Homo sapiens: one gene and its partner. The protein of the gene in region 1 purifies or fractionates together with the protein of each later gene. This does not show direct contact. Each region holds a gene or a part of one and is shown in the gene's direction. Other genes may lie near its edges.

Region 1 (3,653 bases):
CAGCTTGACTTTGGCCAGTTGAGTTGAGCCGATTTTTTTTAACCTTTAATTTATGTGGTCAAAGGCTAGAGGAGAGAGAACACTGATCTCCAGAGTTCAAAATAAAATCTAAACGCCCACATAGACGCTGCTGTCCTACTGTAAAACTACAGTACTTTCATCCTCGCATAAAGACTTCCAAGATTGTACCCATGCAGTAATTCATGGAGACATCACAGATGTTCTCCTGAAGCATATCAACGCAATCTGCTCTTTGTTGAAAACTGACCGAAAACTTGCTTTCTTTGGCATCATACCCTACACCGCTATCCCTAATCAGTTTCCCTCCTGTTACAGGCAGTAGTTAGAGAACAGGTTTCGGTGAGGTACAGATCCTAAGAGCGCAGGCCCTGGGCTCACAAGAACCCTGGGTCCCAGGCCCCAGCTTGTTATCTTCCAACACTGTCCTGATTTCCATCACTCTCCAGGGTAAACTGAGGGAATAAAACCTGTTGACTTAGTTGGTTGTGAGGAGTTCAATAAATGTTTCCTGTGTTATTGATCAGGAACCAGAATCTGTGTGTGTGTGTGTGTGTGTGTGTGTGTGTGTGTGTGTATTTACCTTCATTTTTCTCTTTGTAAATCTCTTCGCAGTAACAGTAAGGATTCGTGTTGGAATTAAGTCTGTAAGATCTTTCTTGAGATACTTTTTTTGTTCTAATAATATATATATTTTTTAATTTGCCATCGTGTTCAATGTTAATTTCAGTTTGAGGGGAATTCCTGACAGGATTGCAGAACCTCAAACTTCCCAAGTCATTGGGTTAATGTTTTGGGGAGCTGCTTGAAGGAATAGAGAGATGAGTCGATTATAGTAGCAGGAATGACGTGACAATTGCCATATTAATAGCTCAGCTTTTTCCAATTCCCTTACACATTCTGTGACTCATTTTCTGTAGCTTGGATGATTTCTCTATCTAAAACTTTGTGGTCTGAGATCAGCAGTGGATGGTGAGACCCCACAGATAAGCTCTCTTGTAGGGGGTATATGTAGCCTGAAAACTAAGGCCAGTCCTGTGAAACTGTTGATATTTGACCCTTTTGACCAAATTTTCATTTGGTTTACCCTTACACTTGCGACATAGGTCAGGGCTTCAGTAAGAGTCACGAGCAGCAAAAACAGCCTGGAACTGATAGGCATCGTTGCCTTTTGATACTGATCATTCTTCAGAAAAGAGATAAAGAGTTAGTATTTACTAAACACATACTCTGCATGTGCCAGGCACAGTGTTGAGGGGCTCTGTTATCATCCACATTTCATAGATGAGGAAATGGAAACTCAGAGAAATGAATTTGCAGCCCAGGTCGCAGAGCCTGAAAACCAGATGGGGAAATTTGCACCTCAACAAAGTGTATTCTCACACTCACTGTAGTTTTTGAAACAATTTCCTTTTCTGGGTTAAAGACTTATTTTTGTGCAGTGCAGTTATAACATCACTGTGATGCAACAGCCTGAAAATTAAAACCCTTTGTGAGAGGCCTTTCGGACGTTGAGCAATGTGCCTGACTCACCAGCTGAGTGGATTTTTCTAGTTGACCTTGCCTTGGTCATTAGAGTCAATTTCGAGATGTAAATGCGATTGCAGCATGGAATGGAAAAGGTGCAGTCATATTGCCTGGGCTTTATTTTTACCCAGGTTAAACTCATATACTTCATGATTTCCATTGTAATCCAGATGCCATTGATGCTGTTAAAGTTGTTTATTTTTAATTTGTATTGAGGAATGAGAGCACACTTGGGATTCAATTCAAAATATAACAGAAACAATGTAATTGAAATTGCCTTTAATATTCATTTCTTGTTTTTGTAAGGTATGCCTGTATTTCACGGGGTTTAATACATTGTTTGATATCCTGTTATTTTTCTAAATTATATTTGAGTTGATTTCTATCCAGGTTGGACTTGTATGAGAATGTTGAAAGACGTTGACCTTTGATCACAGACATTACAATATGAATTTTTCAGTTTCAAAATGAATTTTTATTACTACTACCCCAGTTATCTTTCACATTTCTTTGTAAGTAACTTTACTGTAGTTAAAAAAAAAAAAAACACCCAAAACTGTTTCTCATATGGCTTTAATAATAGAGCATAAACTTGTTTTTATGATAAGAAAGTTTACTAGAGATTTGCTAGATGCCATTTGTTATTAATCTGTGCTTTGAGGACTCAGTTTCATAGGACTCAGAATGATGTTTATAAGCCTTTTAGTTATCAGAACATGATGTCTTTTATTAATTAGCTTTTTAGGGGTCTTAAACTGTAATTAACTGGCCTTCAAATAAACACTACAAATAAGCATTTGAAAATCCACTCTATTCATAAGGTAGAAAATGACATTTATAATCATCCACTGACTGGAAAAGTGGAAAAAGAAATTAAAAAGCCAAGTGAAGCAAGTTGGGATGATTCTACATTATCATTAGAAACTTTCAAGAATTTTCTCAGCCTGACTGTCCCCTTAGCCCACCATTTTTGCCATCATTACACCATGTTGCATGTATTACTTATTCATTGGGGAATTTTCTACAACTGGGTTACTTTGTGATTGTTGGTGTCCTTTTAAGATTTCAGATTAGTTGCTACACTGATCAGTTATCTTTTCAGAAGTTTCAAGATATTAATAGTCCCCACATTTAAGTTTCTATAGATTTTTAAAAAATTATTACTGTTCTGTTTTTCCCCCATGTTACTACCCATCTTTAGTGAGAGCTGTTCTTATTTCTCAAGCTGTGCAGTTAATTGGTCGTGCTAGCGTGTATGTGCTTACTCTGTGCAGGCTTCAGAATAATTTAATTGTGTATTAAGTTTCAAACACTGACGACCTCTTAAAGAAGAATGTTAAGTTATACTATTTCATATTTCAATTACTTAAATTACATCAGTGATGTAATAAAATGCAATGTTGTCATCGTATTTATTAAATTTAAATTTAATTTTCAGCTAGTCCTTTGTCGAACTTGAAATATTTTCATTTATCATAAACTGGATCAGGCTTTGACACATTTATTTACAGAGGCACCCAAATAGAAAAAGTAGGTCAATTTGTTGCTATGATAGAATAGATTCTGGCAGTGTGCGAGAGTGTGTGTGTATGTGTGTGTGTGCGTCTTGCCTGTCTTGATCAAGTGCACATTTCTCTCTAACTTTGGGGTAAGCTGCTTCTTGGGGACAGAATGGCCCTTAGAGAGGTTTAACATAGTTTTCTCAGCTTAAAAATCCTTCTCTTTTTCAACGGGATTAGAAAATTCTCTTGCAACTTCGGTGTTTTCTGACTGAGTTTTTTCACTCCCCATTTCCTCTGGGTTGTACATGTATAGTGAATTCTTTTCTTATTTCATCTCTGCTTTTAAATACTAGATTGTTTTCTCATCCATGAAAAGAAGTAAAGCATTTCATTGACGCAGATACTGTGAATTTTACCCACAGGAAGAAAATGTAGGGTTAACATATTGCTAGTATTCATACTTTAAAAGTATAAAGAGATGTGAATTGATTAATTGATTTGATTTTTTCATGAAAATGACATTTATCTAAAAAATAAGCATCTGCTGTCTTACTGGAGAGGTGGCTTACAGTTTAACATAACTTAGGTTTACCTTGAAGACATTTT
Region 2 (3,653 bases), on another chromosome or scaffold:
CTTTGCTGTCTGAGTCCACTAGGATTTGGCACTGGAGACTTAACTCATCAGAATAATAAAGCCCCAGCACCTGAGCGGCTCCCACCTCCCGCTCCACACACAACCTCAGGCAGTGCTCCTGCTGCATGGGCAGAAGCTGATTTCAGAAATTCGCCAAGATCTTGGAGTCATTTGGGATCAGTTTGAAGATACGGTGTTTACTATCACACTGGAAAGCTCATCTGGGTGCTTTTATGTTAAGAAAAAGTGTTACATGGCTGGGCACAGCGGCTCACACCTATCATCCCAGCGCTTTGGGAGGCTGAGGCAGGAGGACTGCTTGAGCCCAGGAGTTCAGGACCACCCTGGGCAACAGAGCAAGATCTCATCTCTATCAAAAATAAAAAAAAATTAGCCAGGGGTGGTGGTGCGTGTCTGTAGTCCCAGCTACTCACGAGGCTGAGGTGGGAGGATCACCTGAACCCAAGAGGTAGAGGCTTCAGTGAGCCATGATGGTGCCACTGCACACCAGCCTGGGCGACAGAGCGAGACCCTGTCTCAAAAACAAAAAAAAGTGGACATAGTTGTGAATGTGGGAGCTTGCTGCCTAGTTCCTATTTCTTGGGAAAGTGGCCTCCAGGCTACTCATATTAGTTTGAAGAGAGTGATCAGAGTGTGCCCGTGAGGGCTGTGCTTCCCCTGAGCCCCGGAGCTCCTGAGTGGCTTGGTGAATGGTGAACCCACCTGCTGTGGAGTCGGGGCTTTTTAAGCTGGAAACGGGGCGCTCAGGTGCCCGTGACGTTTTTCGTGCTGAAGAGGAAATTCGATGTCTTTGCTGGTGTGGAAAGTCTTGGGTTTTCTTCCTCTTCCGCCCCCGTGCTTCTGTGTTCCCTTTAGAAACGGAGGGAGGGCACTGTTGGTTTCTGTAGATTGGGGCTGAGTCTCTTCTGTCTCCAGGTCTGTGTGCCCACTCCCCCCAGGTGGAGGGGACCGAGAACGTGGGGCTGGGGGCTTTTCAGGATAGAGACAGAGGACCTCAGGGCCCTGCCCTATGCATTGTGTGTCTGTGCTGTGACCATGATCAAGCTATTCTGGTCTCCAGGCCTCAGTTTCCCCATCAATTAAATACAAGGGGGTTGGACTAGATTATTAAAACAGCTATTTCTTTTTTTTGTTTGTTTTTGAGACGGAGTCTCGCTCTGTCGCCCAGGCTGGAGGGCAGTGGTGTGATCTCGGCTCACTGCAACCTCTGCCTCCCGGGTTCAAGCGATTCTCCTGCCTCAGCCTCCCCAGTAGCTGGGATTACAGGTGTGCACCACCACACCCGGCTAATTTTTGTATTTTTAGTAGAGATGGGGTTTCACCGTGTTGGCCGGGCTGGTCTCAAACTCCTGACCTCAAGTGATCCGCCAGCCTCGGCCTCCCAAAGTGCTGGGATTACAGGCACGAGCCTCTGTGCCCAGCCAAAGGAGCTGTTTCTGTAATCTGCTGACCCTTTCCCCCAAGCTCAGTGTGCAAAGCATAAAAGCCATTCTTGTCACAGGGACCCAGAACCTTCCCACATTCCACTCCCTCTTCAGCAGGTGGCTGTTGGCGGGGTGCCCAGAGTGCCCTGGGGCTCTGCAGAGCTCAGGATGAGCATCACTCATGAGGTGATTTCCAAGGTTTTTTCTGATTCAGCCCTGGATGCCGCATTTCCACCTTGAAGAGGGAGAGAAGGTTGAGGCTTCTGGTGCAGTAGGAGTTTATGGCTTGAGGTTCTGCCCAGCTCTGTGACTCTTGGACATCTCATGAGTTGTGTTTTGGGACTGTGATGTCTGGAGAAGTGCTGTTTCCTGAATCTCTCTCACTGTCCTTGGTTGTAGTGAAATTGAGCTTTTACATGAAACAAACCTCGAGGCCTTTCATTTGATGCAGCAGAAGTTCCATCTCACCCTTGCTGTTCAGTCGGGGGCAGCGAGGACCGTTTTTCCTAAGTCTGCTTGTACTTACACCAGTTATACTCTCCCCAGACCTATTAGGAGCTGAAGGTAGCCATATCCCAGCAAGACACGTGAGACTCGGAGTAGGGTCTGTGTTTTCCATGGTGACGGGATCTTCGCCTTGGTTAAAGGCGCATGCATTAATGGTTTAGGGCACATTTGTCCAACCTGTGGCCCACAGGCTGCGTGTGGCCCAGGACAGCTTTGAATGTGGCCTAACACAAATCCGTAAACTTGGTTGGGTGCAGTGGCTCATGCCTGTAATCTTAGCACTTTGGGAGGCTGAGATGGGCAGATCACCTGAGGTCAGGAGTTTGAGACCAGCCTGGCCAACATGGTGAAACCCCATCTCTACTAAAAATACAAACATTAGCCAGGCGTGGTGGCGGGCACCTGTAATCTCAGCTACTCGGGAGGCTGAGGCAGGAGAGAATCGCTTGAACCTGGGAGGCGGAGGTTGCAGTGAGCTGAGATCATGCCACTGCACTCCAGCCTGGGTAACAGAGCAAGACTCTGTCTCAAAAAAAAAGCCAAATCTGTAAACTTTCTGAAAACATTATGAGATTTACACACAGACCTACCTACCTTCCTTCCTTCCTCTCTCTCTCTTTCTTTCTCTCTCTCTTTCTTTTTTCCTTTTTTGTTTTTTTTAGTTCATCAGCTATCATAGTGTTAGCGTATTTTATGTGTGGCTCAAGACAATTCTTCTTCTTCCAATGTGGCCCTGGGAAGCCAAAACATTGGACACCCCTGGTTTAGGGCCTTGTGCAGCACTGAACCACAGATGGGACTTGGTGACAAATGACACGAACAGAGGGACCCCTGAACTCCCCCTCTTCTGCTGGGCCAGGGAATAAGCCTACATTCTCCTGAGCCCCTGCCTGGTCAGGTGGGAGCTGGGCACCTGCGGTCAGCTGGCGTTTTCTCTCTAGAGTTTTAGAAACTCTTAACACACCTCTTCTCCTGGCACATTTTACTGGCTGGAATCCCAGCTGCTTTGGGTGTGGGGTTGGTGGCCGGGGAGCCTCCGGGTTCAGTCGGCCTGAGGTCTGGAGGGTGGAAGGGGTATCTTAGGGTCCCCTGGGGTGCAGCAGGGCCTGGGCGGCACCCCTGGCTCCCATTCCAGGGCTGTGTCCCGTAAAACTCGTTCCATCCACTTCTGCCTGCCCCGTCTCCTGCTGAGCTTGACGTGCAGTGCGTGGGGTGAGCTTTTCACCCCCTACCACGGGTGGAGCCCGAGGAATCGTGGAGGGAGCTTGGTCTCCCCGAGGTGCTCAGTGAGCTGTGGGGACTGAGGGCGTGAGCTGTGGGGACCGGAGCCCTTCAGGGCCCGGGTGTGACTGAAGGCGTCAGTGTCGGGGGTTTCCCCAGGATACCTGCCATCGGCCTGGCTTGGTTGCGGTTGTGGCTGGGGGGTCTGTGGTGAGCTGTGCAGGTCAGGGGTGGATGGGCTGCCGCTTCCGCTGCCTTCCCCAGACCCCTGCTGTCTCCAGAGCTTGGATGCTCCCCTCAGTGGCAGCTGGAGCCCAGGGCTTTGGACCGACTCTTCATACCGCAGATGCCTCTGAGCACCGTGTGTTCGGGCCGTGTGCACTGTGCCTGGCCTGCGCCCCCACCGAGGGCTGCTACTGGTGTAAGCCGGGGAGGCCGAGGCAGCGTCTGGGTGGGGTTCGCCCGTGGGGGCTGCTTCGT

Evidence for each region.
Region 2: the proteins of NFIL3 (region 1) and SNX8 purify together in Homo sapiens (affinity purification with mass spectrometry; one large-scale study listed by BioGRID and IntAct). This does not show direct contact.

The regions. Positions count from the first base shown.
Region 1 is NC_000009.12:91,417,295-91,420,947, reverse strand, and holds part of NFIL3 (nuclear factor interleukin-3-regulated protein), read left to right. Parts: intron 1-1,592; exon of another isoform or gene 1,593-3,653.
Region 2 is NC_000007.14:2,258,942-2,262,594, reverse strand, and holds part of SNX8 (sorting nexin-8), read left to right. Parts: intron 1-3,653. UniProt on the Homo sapiens protein: May be involved in several stages of intracellular trafficking. May play a role in intracellular protein transport from early endosomes to the trans-Golgi network.